Linked DNA regions of Homo sapiens: region 1 is linked to region 2. Evidence: fine-mapped QTL for protein levels in blood plasma. A gene starts in region 2. The other region holds a variant in brackets. All regions are shown on one strand. Distances are between the middles of the regions. Region 1 holds the start of LOC112268218 (a long non-coding RNA gene). Region 2 holds the start of NADK (NAD kinase).

Evidence for each region. PIP is the posterior inclusion probability: the model's chance that the variant is causal. The UK Biobank Pharma Proteomics Project read protein levels with antibody pairs (Olink). The fine-mapping took linkage between variants from a reference panel, not from the people measured, so its PIPs are less certain.
Region 1: its variant is fine-mapped to the plasma level of the NADK protein (UK Biobank, PIP above 0.99).

The regions. Positions count from the first base shown.
Region 1 is chr1:1,744,126-1,753,803 of GRCh38, reverse strand. It overlaps NADK (NAD kinase), which reads left to right. Exons shown (of 12, transcript NM_023018.5): 11 at 155-237; 12 at 744-2,572. The coding sequence ends at 900. LOC112268218 (a long non-coding RNA gene) reads right to left here and starts at 7,985. Exons shown (of 2, transcript XR_002958243.2): 1 at 7,907-7,985; 2 at 2,062-3,889. It also overlaps the pseudogene SLC35E2A. RefSeq lists an enhancer at 151-680 and a silencer at 7,453-7,502. The variant C/G (reference allele first, on the strand shown) is at 4,630.
Region 2 is chr1:1,776,502-1,787,441 of GRCh38, reverse strand. It overlaps NADK (NAD kinase), which reads left to right and starts at 8,972. Exons shown (of 12, transcript NM_023018.5): 1 at 8,972-9,153. GNB1 (G protein subunit beta 1) reads left to right here. Exons shown (of 12, transcript NM_002074.5): 11 at 5-120; 12 at 389-2,156. The coding sequence ends at 111. RefSeq lists enhancers at 4,288-4,457, 6,767-6,866, 6,877-6,946, 6,957-7,016, 7,027-7,196 and silencers at 4,378-4,672, 8,257-9,456.

The DNA of each region.
Region 1 (9,678 bases), 33 kb after region 2:
GCTGGGCCGGTGCCTGTAGGACGTGCACTGCACCGTCCGCAAGGCAGGGTCAGAGCTGCCCAACCTTCGACCTCTGGCGAGCACTCAGGGGTGGGTGCCTAGAAGCGTCCTCCCCACAGCTGGGGGCCCACACCTCTCCCTGCTTGACCCTCAGATCATGCTGTCACCTGAAGCAAGGAACACAGCATGGGTGTCCTTTGATGGACGGAAGAGACAAGAGATCCGCCATGGAGACAGGTGTGGGCTGCATGCCGGGCTGGGCGCTGCCTGCCAACCTCCTCCCCGGGCCAGGCAGCGCCTGCCCTCTTGCGGTTGGCCTGTAGACACAGCTTGTCCCCTAGGGCACCACAGGGCCTGAGTCCCTGGGTCTTGCAGCATCACAGTCGGGGCACCCGTCCTGGGGGCAGCGGGTCGCATACGGTGGCACATGCAGGCCTGGCCCCAGCAGAGGCCTGAGGGTGTCCCCCCTGGCACTGCTGCCCACCCCCACCCACCTCCTGGGACCTCACCCCTGAGGGCCCTGGGGCAGAGTTTGTCAGTTCCCTGCACCGTCCCCTCCAGGACCTGGGATGGCTCTGTCCCAGCACCCATGGGGCACTGCTCAAGCCTGCCTCGGGGAGGGGCTGCCCGGCCCCACAGGAAAAGAGTCCCGGCCATTCCCAGGGAGGGAGGGAGGAAGGGTTCTTGGCCGGGGGTGGGCCTTTCTGGAAGCCCTGGCTCAGGCTGCTGCTCTCCCGTCCCAGCATCAGCATCACTACCTCATGCTACCCGCTCCCCTCCATCTGTGTGCGGGACCCCGTGAGCGACTGGTTTGAGAGCCTCGCCCAGTGCCTGCATTGGAACGTCCGGAAGAAGCAAGCCCACTTCGAGGAGGAGGAGGAGGAGGAGGAGGAGGGCTAGGTCAAGCCCCTATCCAGGCCCGAATCCTTCCGCTGCCCTCCAAGCGCCCTCTGGGGACAGACCAATCTGCGTGTGTCTGTGACCGCCTGTCTCAGTGGCACGGCCACTTCCTTTCTGTAGCTGGGTTAGAGCCTGGGTCTGCCTTTTGTCCAGATCAGCTGTTTTTTTAAAATGTCTGACTTTTTTTGCATTTCTAAAGAAGCGTGAGAAATGGGCTGGGAGTGCTTCTGTCCTGCTGACACCCCGCGGTGGGTCCCTGGAGCGCGGCCTCCAGCTGCCGCAATTTCCATGCCAGGATATTTTTCCGCAAATCAGTCGGTTGAAATTCAGAGGAGTCAGAATGACTCGACCTGTCCTTCAATGTTGATAATAAATGTCTCAGCCAAAAACCTTCCTTGAGCTGCCATGCTTTTCCCCTTGACCTGCACCTCTTCCCCTAAAACTTCTGCAGGGAAGCCCCTGGCGGAGGCGCCATTGAAAGCATGGTCTTGCCAGTGGCTGGCAAGGCGGTTTTGTTCTGCTCAGTTTCTGGAGAGGGTTGGATGCGTCCCCTGCCATCCAGCCCTCCCCGCTTGAGGCCAGCACTGAGTCTGGGACACTCAGCGGGAAGGGGGCTGGCATCGCCAGCGACCCACACATTCCTCACGTAGCTTCTGCTCCCAGGAAGGTAGTTTAAATCCTGTATATACTTTTTAGAGACTCTTTTAAACTTTCTGAAGTGCTGATGTACATACTTTCTCGTACACACTTTTGTGAAGATTTCAAGGGGAAGGGAGTCGTCTGCCATTCAATGTTTACATTTATGTTCTGCAAGACGCTGTCCTCAGGGACCATTAGGGGACCATTCTGTTCAGTGCGATCCTGATGGTCCGGGAGATGAGGGTTTCCGGGGCTAGTGATCGTGATCCCTTTTATTTGCAACTGTAATGAGAATTTTTCACACTAACACAGCGAGGGACTCAACACGCTGATTCTCCTCCTGCCTCTCCCGTGAGTCTCCAGCCTGCCCAGCACCGGCAGCTGTGGAGCACGTGGATGCTGCCTACCCCGGCGCCCGCGTCTTCCACGGGCACAGGTGTGTGGAGGCCGTGGTCGGACCCTGGTGTCCTGGTTACTGCTGCCCGGGTGTCTTTTTTTTGAGTAACTGCTCTCTGAGTTTTGCACACGAAGTTGCCCTCATCTGCTGGAGATCGATAAGGAAGGCACAAGACGTTCTCCTCTGCCCGTGAGGAGCTTCCCGCAGCCGCCTGGCCCAGCCTGGGCACGTTCTCCGAGGCATGTGTCTCCCTGCTCACCCTCGTCTGGGCACCTCAGCATCTGTGGACTTGAGCGTCCAAAAACCCTGAGTGTGATTCTGGGCAGCCGGCCTGGCTTGAAGTCCGCCATGACCCTGGGCACAGGGGAAGCCCAGCCGTGGGCTTAGGAGAGAGGGACCAGCGCCCAGCGTTAGGGCTGGAAGACGGCAGTGTTCAGAATTCCAGCCGCTCATCTGAACACAGAAGGTGTGAACTGACCTCTAAAGCAGCGTGAGATGGGAATGATCTAGAAAACTTTGGATTTTTGAAGTAAATTTTAATGTTTCATATTAATTTCTTGAAAATGTATTAAATGTCATTGAAAGCCTTATTACGCTTTTCAGATCCTTTCAATAAACAAGACTTGTAGAAAATAAGCTGGGTTAATAACAGCTTTCTTCTGACGCCGTGGAACCAACATAGAGGGGTCGGGCAGGGTCACCCCCATTAAATCCTAGCCCCAAAATGCCCATCCACCGAGTGTGGGGCCGGCAGGGCATCCTCCCCAAGGGGCTGGGGGTGCCGCTGCCTCTTCCGGGCAAGGGGGCAGTGCCCTGGCGGGGGTAGGGGTAGACAGAAGGGACTCAAACCCGAGGGGTGGTGTCGACTCGGGCAGGCTGTGTTGCTCCCGGAAGAGCCACTGAGACCAGGGGGAATTGAGTCCCTGCATTCCCGGGGCCAGCAGGGCTGGAAGAGCCCCTCCATCCGGGCTGCCTAACAGGGGCAGCCACAAGCCAGGTGAGGACCCGCTGGCCCCTGGGCCCAGCCTGGGCACCGATATCGGCCTCCCTCCCTCCACTGACGTGGTCCTGCGCCCCGCAACCCCCCCACCCCGCACCGTCCCTGTTGTCCTAACAAGGCCCAGATGAATGTGGCTCAGGGCTTTGCCGGCAGCCAGTCTGCACTACACGCGTGCAAGTCCAGGAGAGACCAAAACGACCACCCTGTGGACACCTGCGCCTCCAGCACCCTGCCCCGTTTTGGGGACGTGAAACCCTGGGCTGTGGGCCCCGCCCTACCGACCTGGAGCGCCTCTGCCTCCCCGGCCTGGAAGAGGCTGTGGGTCAAGCCTAACCTTCTCGGCTTTGGGGAGCACAGAGTCCCCAAGACATCCTCGGGGGCTGCCGGGCTCAGGCTCTGGGGCATGGAAACCTTTTCGAGCCTGAAACGGCGGCATCCACGGTCCCTGCCGGGCCAGTGCCAGCCTGCACCCTGGGCACCTCTGTGCTGGGCCCGGCACCCCCACCCTGCCTCCCACAGCCAGGGTGTCTCCTCAGGTCAGGTCCAAAGGGGCTGCAGCCAGGCCCAAAGACCCAGCCCAAGTCCCATGGCTCCTGCGGGGTCTGGGTGAGGCCTGTCCTGCTGGGAGCCCAGGAGGCTGCGACCCTGCCTGGAGCTGGAAGTCTGGTTGGGGGGTGGTAGCAGGGTGGGGCGGGTACAGGGTAGAGGAGCCGGCCGGAGGAGCCCAGGGAAGGCTGGCGGTGCTGGGGATGTAGGGGACAGCAGGAGCTGGTACATCACCACGTGGTTCAGCTGCTTCCAGCACATCCCGCCCCAGAAGGATCTCAGCCAGGGCATGGGCTGCCTTCAGGGTCTGGCAACACCAAGGAGCCAAGGCAGGTGGTAAACCGAGGCCACAACCTCCTTAGGAGCCTCCACAACCAGGGCGCACAGCTGAAAGAGGAAGGAGGCCCCTGCGGAGAGCAGGGTGGGCAGGAGTGGGTGGCCAGGACAGGTGGTGCCCAGTGACCGGCGGTGGGGACCCGGGAGCCACAGAGGAGCTGGCTCAGCCACCCCTGTGCAGGAGGCACCTGGGGCCTGTACTCAGGCCTCACCCAGGGCTGCCCCACGCCCACATCCTGCTGACAAGCCCCCAGGACCAGCATCCCCACCCAGCTGCTCTGTGCAGAGGGGACAGGAGGCCAGACAAAAAGATGGACAAACACCCACGTAGATTCACACACACACAAACAGACACACCACACAGAAAAATATGCATGGACGCCACTGAGACACGCTAACACCACACACTCAGACACAAACACACCACACACACAGACTCACACAGATACACACAGAGAAAAATACACATGGACGCCACTGAGACACATACACTCAGAGACAGGCAGTGCGCTCTGGGCAACAGGAAGCTTCCTCCAAACCAGTGAAGGGCCCAGGAAAGCATGAGCGGCCCTGACGTGTATGGAGGGTCCAAAGGCTGCGGGAACTTGCCCGTGAGTGACCTTGGCCTGGAGAACTCCCCGGCCTCAGTTTCCCCACCTGCTGATGAGGACAAACTGCAGGGGCATGAGCGGCTGCTGCTCCCCTACTTCTGCGCAGGTGGCCGAGTGGCCTGCAGGCTGGGTCTCCAGGTGGGGACGCTTCCTTCTTCCTCCCCACCCATGGGGCCTTGGCACAGACCCTTCTCTGGGGC[C/G]TCAGTTCACACCCCACACTTCCCTGCTGTCCTCAACGCCCCTTGGGAAACTTCAGCTCCTTTGGGCCGGCAGGTCTCACCCTCCTCCCCAGCGGGAGCCCAGACCCAGACTGAGGCTGGCTGGGGGACAAGGAGGAGCCTGTGGGCCGGGGGGGACCCCGAAGGGGGCAGGACAGAGCTAGCCATGACTGCTTTCCTTCCTGCCTTCTACATCATCCAGGACCTGAAGGCAGAGGAAAGGAATCCCACAGCCCATGGGCCGCTCAGCCTGGGTAGACCCTGCCCCGAGGTCAGCAGACGGCAGGGAGACCCAGAGAGGCTGTGAAGCAAGAGCAGCACAACCCGGAAGGTCCCAGTGAGCCAAGGATGCACTTTGGAGGCGGGGTTTGCACAGCGCCTGGACCCATCAGTCTCCCACACAGCGAGGGCGTCCTAACTGATTCCTAACTGACTCCACGTCATGTGGATAGAAATTCATTAATATGCATAACAAATGACTACATGCAAGCAGGAAAACATTTGCAATAATACAGCAGGTCGATGTTCTCAACTAGGAAAACAGTTGCAATAATACAATGCGTGGATGTTCTCAATACAGTCAAAGCTCATATAATCAACACAAAACATTCACAGAAAAATTGTCAAAGGGCAGAAACCGATGACTCAAGGAAGAATATAAATAGCTAAGAAGTAAATGATCAATAATCAAACTAGAACATAATCAAAGAAATTTAAAATTAAAATTATTAATACACTCCTCCCAGGCAAAATAGCAAAGAGAGGGGACATGGTGGCTCACACCTGTAATCCCAACACTTTGGGAGGACGAGGTGGGAGGTCCTTCTGGGGAGAGGAAGAGAGGAAGGCACACAGGCTTCCAGACACTATTCCAAAATCATTAATACGCACACCCCAGGCCCAGCACGGTGACAGCCACCTGCAGACCCAGCTACTCGGGAGGCTGAGGCCAGAGAGCCCTGAGTTTGAGCCCAGCCTGGGCAAAGTAGCGAGATCCCCCATCTCAAAAATAAAATAAAATGCATGGTTCCTCATGAAATGTAAGGCTTTGCTATAAAAACTTTGAGAGGCCAGGCGTGGTGGCTCACACCTGTAATCCCAGCACTTTGGGAGGCCAAGGTGGGTGGATCATGAGGTCAGGAGTTCAAGAGCATCCTGGCTAACAACGGTGAAACCCCGTCTCTACTAAAAATACAAAACAATTAGCTGGGCATGGTGGCGGGTGCCTGTGATCCCAACTCCTCGGGAGGCTGAGGCAGAAGAATCTCTTGAACCTGGGAGGTGGAGCTTGCAGTGAGCCGAGATCGCGCCACTGCACTCCAGCCTGGGCGACAGAGTGAGACTCCGTCTCAAAAAAAAATAAAGGCCGGGCGTGGGGTAGCTCACGCCTGTAATCCCAGCACTTTGGGAGGCTGAAGCGGGCAGATCACAAGGTCAGGAGATGGAGAACATCTTGGCCAATATGGTGAAACCCTGTCTCTACTAAAAATATAAAAATTAGCTGGGCGTGAGGGCACACATCTGTAATCCCAGCTACTCAGGAGGCTGAGGCAGGAGAATCACTTGAACCCGGGAGGCGGAGGTTGCAGTGAGCTGAGATCGTGCCACTGCACTCCAACCTGGGCGATGAGAGCGAAATTCCATCTCAAAAAAAAACAAGGAGTACTTTTTATAAATCTGCTTTTGAAATCATTTGGATACCACAGCGGCCCTGCTGACCACAACAGCTGAGACTGTTGGGCAAATCACCAGACATTTCTGGGTTTCCTGGAAAGTAGGAGAATCTACTTTGTAAACTGCTCTCAAATTTATGAACTCCGTGTGGATAGTGAACTCAGGCAGCAGGCAGGTGGCACTCCACTGCGTTAATTTCACTTCATTTTATAATTTTCTTTCTTCCTTTTTTTTTTTTTTTGACGGAGTCTCACTCTGTCGCCAGGCTGGAGTGCAGTGGCGCCATCTCGGCTCACTGCAACCTCCGCCTCCCGGGTTCAGGTGATCCTCCTTCCTCAGCCTCCGGAGTAGCTGGGATTACAGGCGCCCGCCACCACGCCCGGCCAATTTTTGTATTTTTAGTAGAGACGACGTTTTACCACGTTGGCCATACCAGGCTGGTCTCAAGCTCCTGACCTCGTGATGCGCCGGCCTCGGCCTCCCAAAGTGTTGAGATTACAGGCGTGAGCCACCGGGCCCGGCCCAAAAGTAATCTCTAAAGAGCCCTTTAGCCGTAACTTCATTCCTGAAAATTATTTGGGAAAGTAACGCTAGGAAAACGCTCGACGAAGCTCCGGAGCCGGGGGTCCTCGGGGCCGCAGGCGCGCCCGCGGGTGTCTGCTCCGGATGTCCCGCGGCAGCCCCGACGCCAGCCTGGATACGAAGGCCCCGCCCCGGAGCGCGCCACCAGCCAATCAGCGCCCTGAGGCGAGTCCTCACCCCGCGCGGCGGCCCCGCCCCCCGCAGCTCCGGGCCCAGCTGTCAGAGCAGCTTTCCCTCAGGCTGGGCGGAGCGTGGCCACTTCCGCCAGGAGGCGCCTTTGTGTCTTCTAAGTTAAGCCTATTCAGTGGATTTCTTATTCCTGGAACCCAAACCTGGGCAGTAAACCCTCCGGGGCTTAGAGGCCGCTGCCTCCACAGACTGGCCGATCCCGCCCTGAAGTGCCGCTGGTGGAACAGCCCGGGCGGAACCAACGGGCTGCCGCGGGGGGTGGGGCCACGGTTCCCCCCCCTTCTGCCTTCAGTGGAACGGCCCCGGCGGAACCAACGGGCCACGGGGATGCACTACGCGCACCGTCGTCCTCTCCCTCTGCCTGCAGTGGAACGGCCCGGGCGGAACCAACGTGCGGCCGCCCGGAGCACTCGGCGCGCCGTGTCCCTCCCCGTGTGGCTGCACTGCAGCGGCCCGGGCTGGACCACCAGGCGGCCGCGGAGAGGCACTTAAAAGCCCCGTGTTACCCTAGACCTTAAAAAAAAAAAAAAAAAAAACTGCGTGTTTCCACCCCCGTCGGCCTGCAGTGGAAGGGCCCGAGCAGAACCAACGGGGCAGGGGACGCTGAGCGCGCCGTGTTTCTCCTCCCGTCTGCCTGGAGTAGAACGGCTCGGGCGGAACCAACGGGCAGCCGCGGGGGCGTTGTGGGCCGCGGCGCGTTTCCCCGGCTCCGTGGCTCTGGGGCACTGAGGAGCGGCGCCCGCGGGGCAGCGAGGAGCCCGATGCAGGGTTCTGCGCGTCATTTCCGGTCCCGCGGGCGCCCCGTGAAGCCCACCTGGATCCGCCAGCGCTGTGCCACTCCCCAGTGCCGAGCTCCGAGCTGTCTCCGCGGCCTCGCGCCCGGCCCCTCCACCGCGCACCTCTTAGGCCCCGCCCGCCAGCGTCCCTTTGTTGTGAAGGCGCCGGGGCCTAGCGCTATGCCTGCGGCGGAGACTGCATCAGGCTCTCGGTGGGTTCTGCGTGCGGGGTGCTCTGCTCGGTGATCGGTGCTTGGTGCTGCGTGCTCGGTGCTCGGTGCTGGGTGCTGGGTGCCGGTACTGATGCTGAGTGTGCGGGCGTCCGGGGTTTCCCTGCCCGGATTCGCTCCTGGGGGTCCTTTCCTATGGCTGGCGCTGTGCGCGGAAAACGCTGGTGGGGTTTTCCCAGCTGGCTTTAAGCGTTTTCACGTCCGGGAGTCCACGGCGACCCCCACGCCCTGAAGCCTGGGAACGCGGTGTGCGTGGCCGCAAAAAGAACAACAACAACAAAAAAACACAAAACAAAACACGCAAAAAACTAAAGCAAAACTCCCGACAGCCGAGCCCCGTTCGGTGCCTTTTCTTTTTTTTTTTCTTTAATGGAGTGAAATCTACTTTGCTCAGGAAGCCTGCAAATCACATTTTCAGGCCAAACGAGGCAGTATTTTAGAAGGGGTCGCTGAGGCAGGAGTAGGAAGGCTTTCCACTCCACTCACGCATTTTCAGTGTAGGCGAATCGTAAAACGGAGGGCAGAACGAAAATGAGCGGATCTGGGAGTGCAGGCTGCGCTTCGTCCACATCGATAACAGATGTTTCCTGGTGAAGATGTGTAGGGCGCAGCGGGTCACCTGGTCGGGGGAGGGCACAGGGCGTCCCTCCACGGGGTGCCTTTGGCGTTGGGCACTTGTGTGGTCTCCAGCTTCCGGGTTTTGGAAGCGGAGTGTCCCCTGCAGCCTGAGCCTCTTGCAGGTGGTTTCCTTGGGACGAACTCCCAGGGGGAGGTCTGAGTTCTGGGGCGTGGTTTGAAGATTTGGGACACATTTTGCCTGAAATTCCCTGCTGGCCGTTTGAACCCACCTGGACTTCCTGACCAGGGGCACGGATTCTTAACCTCTGGTGCAGGGGCCTGGCTAGGAGAGGTCTGCACAGTTGGACGAGGTGCAAAGTGACGCTTTGTCAGTAACCCGGCGTTGAGATTCCTGTGGTGGGACGAGCAGCTCCTATGGCTTTATCCCATTTTAAATCCAAGTTTTCTTTTCCTTCTAGTCCTCGGGCTCCACCCGGGGAGCTGTGCCCAGACAGCAGAAGGGAAGGATGTCACTTCTGAGATGAGGTTCAGAAAGGCCTGGGCTCCTGTCCTGGCTGCTCTCTCCCACTCCCTGATGAGCTTGCTGGATGAAAGCTCCTGTCAGGCTGTGGGGCGTCCTGTGGAGAAGCTGGCAAGAAACTGGTGGGGGCCCTTTCCACCTATAGCCAGCAAGGAACTGAACCCAGCCAGCGTCCACCTGAGTGAGCTCAGAGGTGGGCCTCAGCCCCAGTTGAGCCTTCGGATGAGGTCACAGCCCTGGTCCATGGTGTGACTGCAGCTTCAGGAGGGACCTTAAGCCAGAGGTGCCTGGCTAAGCTTCCCGCAGATTGCTGCCCCACAGGAGCCAACATCAAAAGCATTTGTTGTTTTGAGGTGGTAAGTGTGGAATGACTGTTACAGGGCAGTAGAGAAGGAGCATGCACCCTTCCTGCTTCTTATTTGCCTTTTAGAAATTGTCCTCTGTGAATCGCTTGAACCTGGGAGGTTGAGGTTGCAGTGAG
Region 2 (10,940 bases):
CCAGGTGTCTTGGCTGGGCATGACAACCGCGTCAGCTGCCTGGGCGTGACTGACGATGGCATGGCTGTGGCGACAGGGTCCTGGGATAGCTTCCTCAAGATCTGGAACTAACGCCAGTAGGTAATGCAGCAGCCCAAATGCCCTTCTCTGAGGAGAACTGTGCGTGTTTCTCATAGAACATTTGAAGTTGTCATTAACGGTTTCTAGATAAATGTTGATGTAGCATTGATTTGGAATTGTGTTGTGGGAAACGTTTACAGAAAGCTGAAGTCACGTGCCCTCAGCTGCAGACACTCATGCAGTGATGGGAAGAGCAGTGACCTGGCTGTGCGTCTGCACTTAGATTCTCTGCCTCTTTTCACATTTCTTTAAACTCTGTTTAAAACAGCATGTGGATGCCATGGAGACTGGAAGACCATTCCAACTTGGACGCGTTACCATGAGAGCATATCCTATCCAACCGTACTAACGTGGACACCCTACACCTCCCCTCAGAACTTCAAAAGGGCAAGATCTTTTTTCCTTCACTTATTGCTGAAACCAAGAGCACAATTCCCATTGAGAGAAAGATCTCTGTGCTGTAAACTAAAACAAATTGTGCATTCCTTCCGGGGCCATCGTCTTTGTTTTCTTTTTTGTCTTGAATGAATTTTAAAAGGAAATATATAATAAAAATGTTAACCAGAAGGTAAACTTGAGTGTAATTGTCAGACAGACACACTTTTCCACCAGTGTATTTGAATTTTAGACCAGTGACCCTGTTTTGTGGCATTCATGCAAAACATGCTGAGGGCTTTGTTCATCTGGTCATCGTGTCCAAATTTCAGTCATGTTTGTAGCAAGATTTTGGAAGCATTCATATTTCCTTTTTAAAATGTATTCCTTTGTGTTCAACAGTTAATCAAAACCAGAGAGTCTAGGGCAGCCTCTCTGATGTTGTCAATGATGTAAATTCAGTCCCTGGTTTTTAATTTTCTGTCTGATGTCACAGATCATTGTTGCACACAAACGTGGCATAGAAAAGAACATGTTCAGAAGCCATGGGGCCAAGCACATGCGGGGACGGTCTCAAATGCGTGATCAGAGAATCCTTCACCTTTGCTGAAAAGTGAGCTCAGATCCAGCACCATGTTCCTCCTGACCCATCCTGTCTATCTTCTCAGTTGAGTTTTTAATCTCACTTTGGGTTTCCTTGTGAAGTTGGAGGGAAGTTTATAATAGCCTAACACTACCCCACCCCCAACTAGGAGGAACCTCTGTTTTCAAGAGAGATGCCTGTCCTGTGCTTGGATAGTCAGTCAATTATTTGTGTATGAAACAATGTACAAATCAATGTTTTGAAAATAATGATCTCAGACTTTCTAAGTTAAATTTTAAAAATTTTGATTGTTTGCCATATTGGGTGGGTTTACTCTTAGAATCGCATGCTGTAGAAATGCTCAAAAGTGCATATGGGACTCAGTCCTTAGGTGTTCTTTTTCTTTTAAGAAATAACCTCTTACAGTTGTAACCATTGCGGCTCTGTCCACTTCTCGTTGCTGCTCTGTGGCACATATCGGAAGCAGTACAGCGCGCGGCTCTACACGCTTGGGTAGCGGGATAAGTCACTGTTTTCTTTATTTCTTTAAAAAAAAAAAAGTTCTGTTGCAAACGACTGCTGTTGGATTCTGAGGGTGGGGAGGGAGAGAGAGGGAGGGAGAGGGAGTGAAGAGCCTGCCCTCCTATATGGATTCTTCAGGGCCCTCCACATCTGAGGTGGCTCATTCCCATCACACACAGATTGTCCTGGTGTTCATTTCAAGGCCAGTGTTCAGCAGCAGCGTTTGGAAAGCAGGTTCTGTGGGACCCCCCGCCCCGCCCCCCGCACTCCTTCATAGCAGCAGTAGTGGCTTCTCCATCCTGTTTTCTGCAACATTCTATACAAAACTGTGCTGTGACCTTGCGGTAGGCCTGGATCTGGCAAAGAGAATACAAATGAAACCCCTTCTTTCTCTTTCCGTCCAACAACTCTGTAGAGCTCTCTGCACCCTTACCCCTTTCCACCTTTTGTATTTAATTTTAAAGTCAGTGTACTGCAAGGAAGCTGGATGCAAGATAGATACTATATTAAACTGTACTGTTATTTAAGATGTAATAAAGCAGTTTGACATGAGGGACTTTGGTGTGGTGATTATTTACGGGTCCACTTCCAGTTTGCAACGCGCCCGCTTCCCTAAGCTGTCCCTGTTGCTGTGAGGTCTGACGGGCCTGCTCATGCCAGGCGGTGCCATGGCCGCCACCACGTCACAGAATCCATGAGTGGCGCATTGGCTCCTCGGAGGGGTTCCTGGGAAGCTCCACCTCACAGGCCAGCAGAGCAGGGAGGTCCACCTGCCATCGCCCAGACCCCTCCCCAGGCATAGGCCTTGCCCACAGCACCGTGGGAGTCTCCACAGGCGGCTGCCTTGCCTTTCTCCTCTGCCATTTCCCTCCCTTAGAATGTCTGAGGATGTTACTCCAGAGACTAGCTTTCCTTGGGACTGAACTGAGTGTTCCTCTTGGTCTGAATATAAAGAACTGCATCTAGTAAGAAAAAAATGAGCACTGGCCATGGTAGTGTGGAAAACCATGGCTGTGTGTGTCCCAAATAGCCGCTCCTAGGCTCCAGAACCATCCACTTCCCTGCTTTCCAAACTGGTGATTTTTTAAAATCTTAAATAGGCAATACAAAATTAGCTGGGCATGGTGGCACACGCCTGTAATCACAGCTACTCTGGAGGCTGAGGCAGGAGAATGGCATGAACCCGGGAAGGCGGAGTTTGCAGTGAGCCAAGATCGCACCACTGCACTCCAGCCTGGGTGAGAGAGCAAGACTGCCTCTCAAAAAAAAAAAAAAAGTAATTTTTTAATTCCCATGGCTCCAGCAGCTGGAACTTTTTTTTTTTTTCTCCCTTGATGTGGAGTCTCGCTCTGTGGCCCAGGCTGGAGTGCAGTGGCGCTATCTCAGCTCACTGCAACTTCTGCCTTCTGGGTTCAAGTGATTCTCCTGCCTCAGCCTCCCAAGTAGCTGGGATTACAGGCACGTACCACGACGCCCCGCTAATTTTTTTTTTTTTTTTTTTTTGAGACGGAGTTTCGCTCTTTTTTGCCCAGGCTGGAGTGCAATGGTGCGATCTCAGCTCACTGCAACCTCCACCTCCCAGGTTCAAGCGATTCTCCTGCCTCAGCCTCCTAAGTAGCTGGGATTACAGGCGCCTGCTACCATGCCCAGCTAATTTTTTGTATTTTTAGTAGAGACAGGGTTTCACCATGTTTGCCAGGATGGTCTCGATCTCCTGACCTTGTGATCCACCCACATCAGCCTCCCAAAGTGCTGGGGTTACAGGTGTGAGCCACCGCGCCTGGCCCAGATGCCCGGCTAATTTGTTGTTGTTTTTTGAGATGGAGTCTCGCTCTTGCCCAGGCTGGAGTGCAGTGGCGCGATCTCGGCTCACTGCAAGCTCTGCCTCCTGGGTTCACGCCATTCTCCTGGCTCAACCTTCCGAGTAGCTGGGTCTACAGGTGCCCACCACCACACCCGGCTAATTTTTGTATTTTTAGTAGAGACGGGGTTTCACCATCTTAGCCAGGATGGTCTCCATCTCCTGACCTTGTCATCCGCCCTCCTCAGCCTCCCAAAGTGCTGGGATTACAGGCCGAGCCACCGCACCCAGCCAAACTTTTTCCTAGTAAGTGAAGAAGGCTCTCAGCAGAAAGTACCTGTAGGCCCCCTCCTCCCCTGGGCACCAGAGAACCCAGCAGCCCCTCCTCTAGGCTGGCAGTCCCTGGCCGGAGAGGCTCCCATAGGGCACTTGGGATTCACGGAGCAGGGCCCAGCCGCCCTGCTCCAGGCAAGGTGCTGGGTGTGTTTCTGACGCCACCAAGGGTGCCCATCTGCCAGCACTGCAAGTGACACTATGGCGTTGTCTCCCTGGTGGGGTGACCTGGTGCTGTTTTAGGCTGCTGAAGTGGGTGTGATTGGCAGGCTGAACGGGGTGGGCTCGCCTGGCTTCGTCATCCCCCACTTTTCCCTGAAATAAATCAGTTCTTCATAGACATGCAAGTTCTTCACAAGCCCTAACCCTGCCAGCTGTCTTACAAAAACCCCACTTAAAATCACTAGAGAGTTGAACTTGTCTTGGAGGCGTCAAAAGAAAAAAAAAATTAAAAATTAAATGCAGAGAGTACCTGAGGCTCTTTCCTGGCTGGCAGTTCCTGGGAGGGAGGGGCTCCAGCAGCCGGGAGGCAGGGTGCCGGCCTGCAGTGGCCTATCTTGGTCCCTGCCCAGAGTAAATAAAGGCCGAGCATCTCAGCACGGCTGCCACACCCCCGACTCCACTTCCTCCCTTTGGGGATTCCTGTTGGCTTCTGTGTCCTAGCCTGGCACCCCGCAGACTGAGGGAGCTGGCATGTGGGACCTGGGACCCTCTGGTGCCCCTTCCCCTTGGCTTTGGCCTGGAAGAGCCAGAGCTGAGGGGGACCCCTCCCTGGGGCGGCCTGCCTGTCCCTTGGCGGGCATGGAGGCCACTGCCCCACTTTCTTAGCAAAACAGGAAATGAAAACGGGCGCCAACAACGTGCACTTGGACAGCGGCACTGACTAAGGCAGTGTGGAAAGAGGAGGATAATTCCACACTGGCTGAGTGAACTGCAATCATTTTCAAACTGTAGGCACAGAAATCTAGTTTGTAGATTGCATTAGCCTGGCCTATGCAGGAGCAGCGCCCTTTGTCGCCAGCAGCTCCGCGGTGTGGGGGCCCCTGGCGCGCTTCCTGTGTCCGGGTCACCTGGCTCCGCCCCGCTTGCGCGGGCGCACCTGTCGCAGGTGGACACAGGCAGTGGAGTGACCTGCAGCTCGCTCCGGCTGTGGGCTGTTCCTGCAGGGCCTCGGACCTCCTTTGACCAAGCGGCGCGGGGTCGCCCCTGTGCTCCATGTCCCAGGGATGGAGGTTCCCCACCTCAATTTTACTCTAGCACGTGGCACGCACGTCCACACTTGAGCAGGACAAGGTTTCCGTTCTGTCCCCTCCGTGTCACGCACCTAGCAGAGGCTGGCCCTCAGCAGGATGCGTGGGGAGGCGCGCTCTGCCCACGCGAAACGGGGACACTTCAGCGGCCTGGCGCGGCCCCCCGCTCCCCCCCGAGCCGGACCTGGGAGCCTGAGTGACTGGGGCCAATAGAAGGGCCGGCCGGGAACCGAGCGCTCCCGGGAAAGGCCGCCTCGGCCCCTCCCACTACTCTCTGGCCTCGCCCTGTCCCCTACCCCCACCCCCCAGCTCCCTTTCCTCGCTGGGTGACCTTGAGCAAGTTACTTGGCCTCTCTGTGCCTCTGGCCCCCGCGTGAAAAATGTGGACAATAAACGTACCAGGCTGTGGCCGGGCGCTGTGGCTCACGCCTGTAATCCCAGCACTTTGGGAGGCCGAGGTGGATGGATTACCTGAGATCAGGAGTTCAAGACCAGCCTGGCCAACATGATGAAACCCCGTCTCTGCTAAAAATACAAAAAATGAGCCGGGTTCAGTGGTGTGCGCCTGTAACTCCAGCTCTGGAGGCTGAGGCAGGAGAATGGCTTGAACCCGGGAGGCGGAGCTTGCAGTGAGCTGAGATCATGCCACTACACTCCAGCCTGAGCTACAGAGCGAGACTTCGTCTTATACTAGGCTGCTTGGTAAGGATCTTGTGAGGACACAGGGAGTCCCAGTCCTGCCAGGTGGTTACTGTTGATGATCCCCGCCCACTCTAGGCTCTCACCACTTCAGGGTCCTGGTCCTTGCTGCTGCCTCTGCCTGAGAGAGAAACACTTGTCCCTGGGTACCTTGGTCAAAACTGTACCCCAACCCCTGCCTGCCCCCACCAATTCTGCTTCTTGCCCGTCTGCCCCACTAGAAGGTGAACACCTGATGGACTTTGGTTTCCACTGTTGAATCCTCAGTATGCCCTGCACATGGCTGGCATCCTGGGAAAGAGGTTGCCCCTCGCCCCAAACCAGGCCAAACAGAAGACTGTCATGTGAGCAGATCCAGACACTGGCCCCTGCAGACGCCCCTATCCTGGCTTTCAGCCTGGGCAGGGCCTGTGCCGGGTGCTGGCTGGAGGCTGGATGAGATGACCAGATAGCCTGCCATACTGATGTCCTTCACTGGGAGCCTCAGTCCTTCCCAGTCATCCTTTCCCCAGGCTCCAGGCCACTTACCCTTGTGGGTTCTGGGCAGACTTCGTTCACCCAGTTTACTGGAGCCAGGCCACCTGAAGCCAACTTCCCTCTCTCCTCAGCCTCCCCAGGAGCAACCTGTACCCCAGTGCACCCCATCCTGCTCCATCCCTCATGGCCTCCGTTCCCCCTTCTCCCTCCACCCTCCCCATCCCTGCTGACCCCCAGAAGAGGATGGGTCCAGGTTTTGGGGGTTCTGAAGTAAACAACATGGGAGCCATCCTTAAAGAATACAAAAAACAATGCGAAATTATGTGAAGAGTCCACTGCCACCTTGAGCAATGGCAGCCCTGGGGCTGAGGAAGGTCAGGGCAGGGGATGCCACCCACTGCTGCCCCATCCCTGGGGCCTGGTCAGGCAGGAGGGGGCCTTTCCTGACCCCCAATCCCTTGAAGGCAGAGCCTCTTCCTGTGCACCATCTGGCAGAAGCCCCCATGATAGCCCTGGACCCTTCTGTTCCTGCTGCGGGAACATCTCTTCCCTTTGGTCTCAGCCCAAGCAAAGCTGCCTCTTGGACCATTCTGGGTGCCCTAAGGAGCCTTCCCAGCTTTGGTCTTAGTTATTGCTGGCCAGGCCTGGGGTGAGGTGTGGGTGTGAGATCTTGGCCCCTGAATCTTCAAGGTCATATCCGGGGCCTGCCCTGAGAAATTGCACAACCTGTCAGCTGAAGGAAACCACAGCCCTGGTTTTGTTTTCTCATCTCTGAAACAGGGAAGCTCTCCTGCAGGCAGTGCCCAGGCCCAGGGTAGACAAAGGGTTTTCATGCCACAGACGGGGCAGCTGCTGGAGCTCCCTACACAGCGGGACACGCGAAGGGCACCTGCTGTGTGACCTGGGGCCCACGACAGTCACTGGTTGCCTCTGCAGAAGCAGTTGACTGCCTCCACTCTAGAAGATTCTACTGAGGCCTGGCTCAGTGCCTGGCTTGTGGGTGCGCCATCTAGATCAAGCATTATTATGCTAATGATCATATGCAAAAACTCAGCTCACGCATTATTATGTTAATGATCTTATCCGCCCCCTCTCCCCCCGCCAAAGAAAAAGAACTGGGCAGCTCAAGGCCGCTTCTGTGGGTGTGGCTGGTGGTCACTTTGAAACAGTTGGGTTTGCAAAATAACCCCGGGAGAAGTTACAGAGCTTAAGAAATCCCCCAAGTTCTCATGATCCTTGCTTCCCTTTCCAGTCACCCTTGGTGCCCTGTACTTCACTGTGGTCCTGAACTGAAGAGCTGTGTTTTTCAGGAAGACTTGGCCAGGCCGTGTTCCGTGTCTCTGGATTCAAGTCCCAGGAGTCCTGACCAGAGAGCAGGTATGCGGGTGTGGGGAAGGGCTGCAGAGGACTCAGGTCCACACCGACCCTGGGCCAGGTGATCACACAGAAAGTATAGACAGGGACTGAACCTCAGAAAACAATGGCTGGGCCAGGTGCAGTGGCTTACGCCTATAATCCTAGTACTTTGGGAGGCCGAGGCGGGTGAAGTTTGAGACCCAGCCTGGGCAAAATGGTAAAACCTCATCTCTACACACACACACACACACACACACAAATATATATATATATGAATGAAGTAGTCGAGTGTGGCGGGACCTACTTGTAGTCCCAACTACTAGGGAAGCTGAAGTGGAAGGATCGCTTGCACCTGAGAGGTCAAGGCTGCAGTGAGCCGTGAGCCCGCCACTGGACTCCGGCCTGGGGGACGAATGAGACACTATCTCAGAAAAACAAAACAATGTCTGGCACCTGGGGGACCAGCAGGTTAGAGCAGCTGGTCGTGCATTGCCAGTTTACCTGACAGTGACTCGAGAGCTGAGAACTGGGTATAGGGCACATTATTGGGATATTTGAGGCCTGAAGGCGCTGATGAGCAGCCACCAGTTCAGCAAGTGCGGGCTGGGTGGGACCCGCAGTTCCAACAAACACTACAAAGTCCGCTCCTGTGGCTTTGGCCTCCTCCCCCAACTCCCCGAGTCCTCCAGCCTGTGGGGTGCGCAAAACACGGCTCCCTGGTCCCCCTAGAGGTGCCCCAGGCCACCGGGTCCTCCCTCCACTGCCAGCCTTGGGATCCCAAGCGTAGACCTCTGAGGACGTTCGTGGGCGTGCAAGGCGCACCTGGCCGCTAGAGGTGGGCGTGAGGCCGATCGCGGTTCCCCCAGGCGCAGGGCCGCCCTCCCAGCCCCGACGGACAGCCCCGAGGGAGCGCAGCGCTGCCGCAGCTGCTCTAAGTTTCGGTTCCCAAATCCGGCTCGGCCCACACCGTGTCACAGCCCGGTAATTAGGGAAGCGGCGGCGGGCGGGGCCAGCTCTCGCGGGGCACCTGCACTCCCCTGAGCCGGCCCACGTGGTCCGGGAGGTCCCGCCCGCGGTGGCGGTGAGTTGGGGGCGGGACGCCGGGCTGGGATCACAATGTCGGGGGCGCCTAGGCGTAGACGTGGCGGGCGGACCCGGGGGCGCCCTCCGGACGCGGCAGGTGAGTGGGGACGGGAGCCGGGGGCCGCCCTCCTCGGGGCGCCGACCCCCGCCTACCCGAGTCGCGGACGCCCGCCCCTGTCCCCGCTGCCCGCCTCCACTCCCTGGTCACTGCTCTCCACCGCGATTCGCCCCTCTTCCCCACCGCCCGCCTCTTTCCCGCCACGCCCGCCGCCTCCCGCCCGCGCGGGGTGTCCCGGCGCCGGTGGGACCCGGCAGACGCGCGGGACGCCCCACGTGCGCGGCAGCGCGCATGCGTGGCGGGTGCGCCTGCGCAGTGGGCGGGCGCGGCGCATTGCTGCTCGGCGGCGCCGGCGCCGGGGTCCGGGCGGCCATGGGGCAACAGGCGGCCAGGGCGCCAAGGGCCAGGTAGCGACGGCTGGCGGCGGCGCGGCGGCGGGGCCTGCGGGCTCGGTCCGGCATGTAGACGCCCCCGCAGGCGCCCGCGGCAGCGAACGGTGAGTGAGCAGACCCGGCCTGCCGTCCGCCTGGGGTCGCCCGCTGCCTGGGGTCATCGCTGCCCGCGAGCGCGCGGCCAGGCGGGGAGACACCAGGCCGGCCCTGCCCATCTGGCCTGCTGAGGAGGCCGTGGAAGTGCTGACGGGCCACCGCTCCGTCCCGAATGGGGCACCAGCACGGCCCAGGGCGAGGCTCGGCCTTGGGGACGGGTCTGAGGGAGGCCGCTGTCCGGCCTGGCTCTCCCGGGCGGGGAAGGTGGGGCCGTCCAGCCCGGACCGCGCTTGTCAGTCGCCTCTGCTTGGGCGGCCAGGTCCTCGGTGTCCGGCCTTCCGTGGGTGGTTTCAGCAAGCAGGAGGGGTCTTTGACTCGTGAAAGCTTAGAGGGGCCCAAACCTAGTGGGAAAGTATGAATAAAAGATTCTATACAGCAGTATTGGCATGGAATTCTCTAAAAACACATCTCTGATTTAGTGCCCAGTACTTGCCAGAAAATTCCAATAGTCTATGGTGATGTTCCTACAGGCGGCTGCCATCCAGTAGGTCAGATGTCAGCACCGGCCTTGAGCTCTAGGTCGTCGTTTTTTTTCTTAATTGTGGGAACAGGGCGTGCCCAGCTCCGAAGGCCTGGTGGAGTTTTCCTTCCCAGGCCAAGGACCACCCCCACCCTCCCATCCCTCCTCCCCAAGCAATGAGATTCCTTTTGGCTTCGATTCCGAGTAACAAGTTATTTTTCCTTTCTTGTTTTGGAACACACTAAGTTTTACATTCAAAAGTTCATTATTCTTGGCTCTTGATGGGAATACATTTCAAAACTCTTCTCTTCTTGTGTTCCATGTCTCTCTGACAGCCTTAGTTGGCCTGAAACTGACATGTTTGCCTTAATAAGTTTTTTTTTCCTCCTGATGTCATCTTGTCTAAGAAGCTAGTTACTTTAACACCTTGTTAGATAATTCCCTTCAAGTACTTATTCCCCTGAACATTGTCCTCTCAAGCCTCTGGAAATTTCCTGTCCCCTTGGAACTTCTCTGTAAGGCCTGTTTGCTCTCAGCAGTGACTTCACTGGGACTTTTGCAGCCACTTTATGGTGTTAGCACGCTGATTCCAAGCTACTTGAGGAATCACAGGTGCCACCGCAGTACCCAACAAAATAGCTTCATCATTTGGAGGTGTCCTCTCGAGATGTTTCTGTGTGTATATGTGTGTGTATGTTAGAAACAGGGCCTCACTCTGTCCTCCAGGCGTGTTTATGGTGGCATGATTATAGCTCACTGTAACCTCAAATTCCTGGGCTCAATTGATCCTCCCACCTCAGCCTCCTGAGTAGCTGGGATTACAGGCCTGCACCACCACACCTAGCTGATTTATAAAATTTTTTGTAGAGATAGAGTCTCACTGTGTTGTCCAGGCTAGTCTCAACCTCCTGGCCTCAAGAGATCCTCCTGCCTCCACTTCCCAAAGTGCTGATCTTACAGACGTAAGCCACTTTGACCAGTCTTTTTTTTTTTTTTTTTTTTTTAAGACAGAGTCTAGCTCTGTTGCCCAGGCTGGAGTGCAGTGGCACAATCTCGGCTCACTGCAACCTCCACCTCCCGGGTTCAAGTGATTTTCCTGCCTCAGCCTCCTGAGTAGCTGGGATTACAGGCGCCCACCACCACGCTCAGCTAATTTTTGTATTTTTAGTAGAGACGGGTTTCACTGTGTTGGCCAGGCTTGTCTCGAACTCCTGACCTCGTGATCAGCCCACCTTGGCCTCCCAAAGTGCTGGGATTACAGGTGTGAGCCACCAC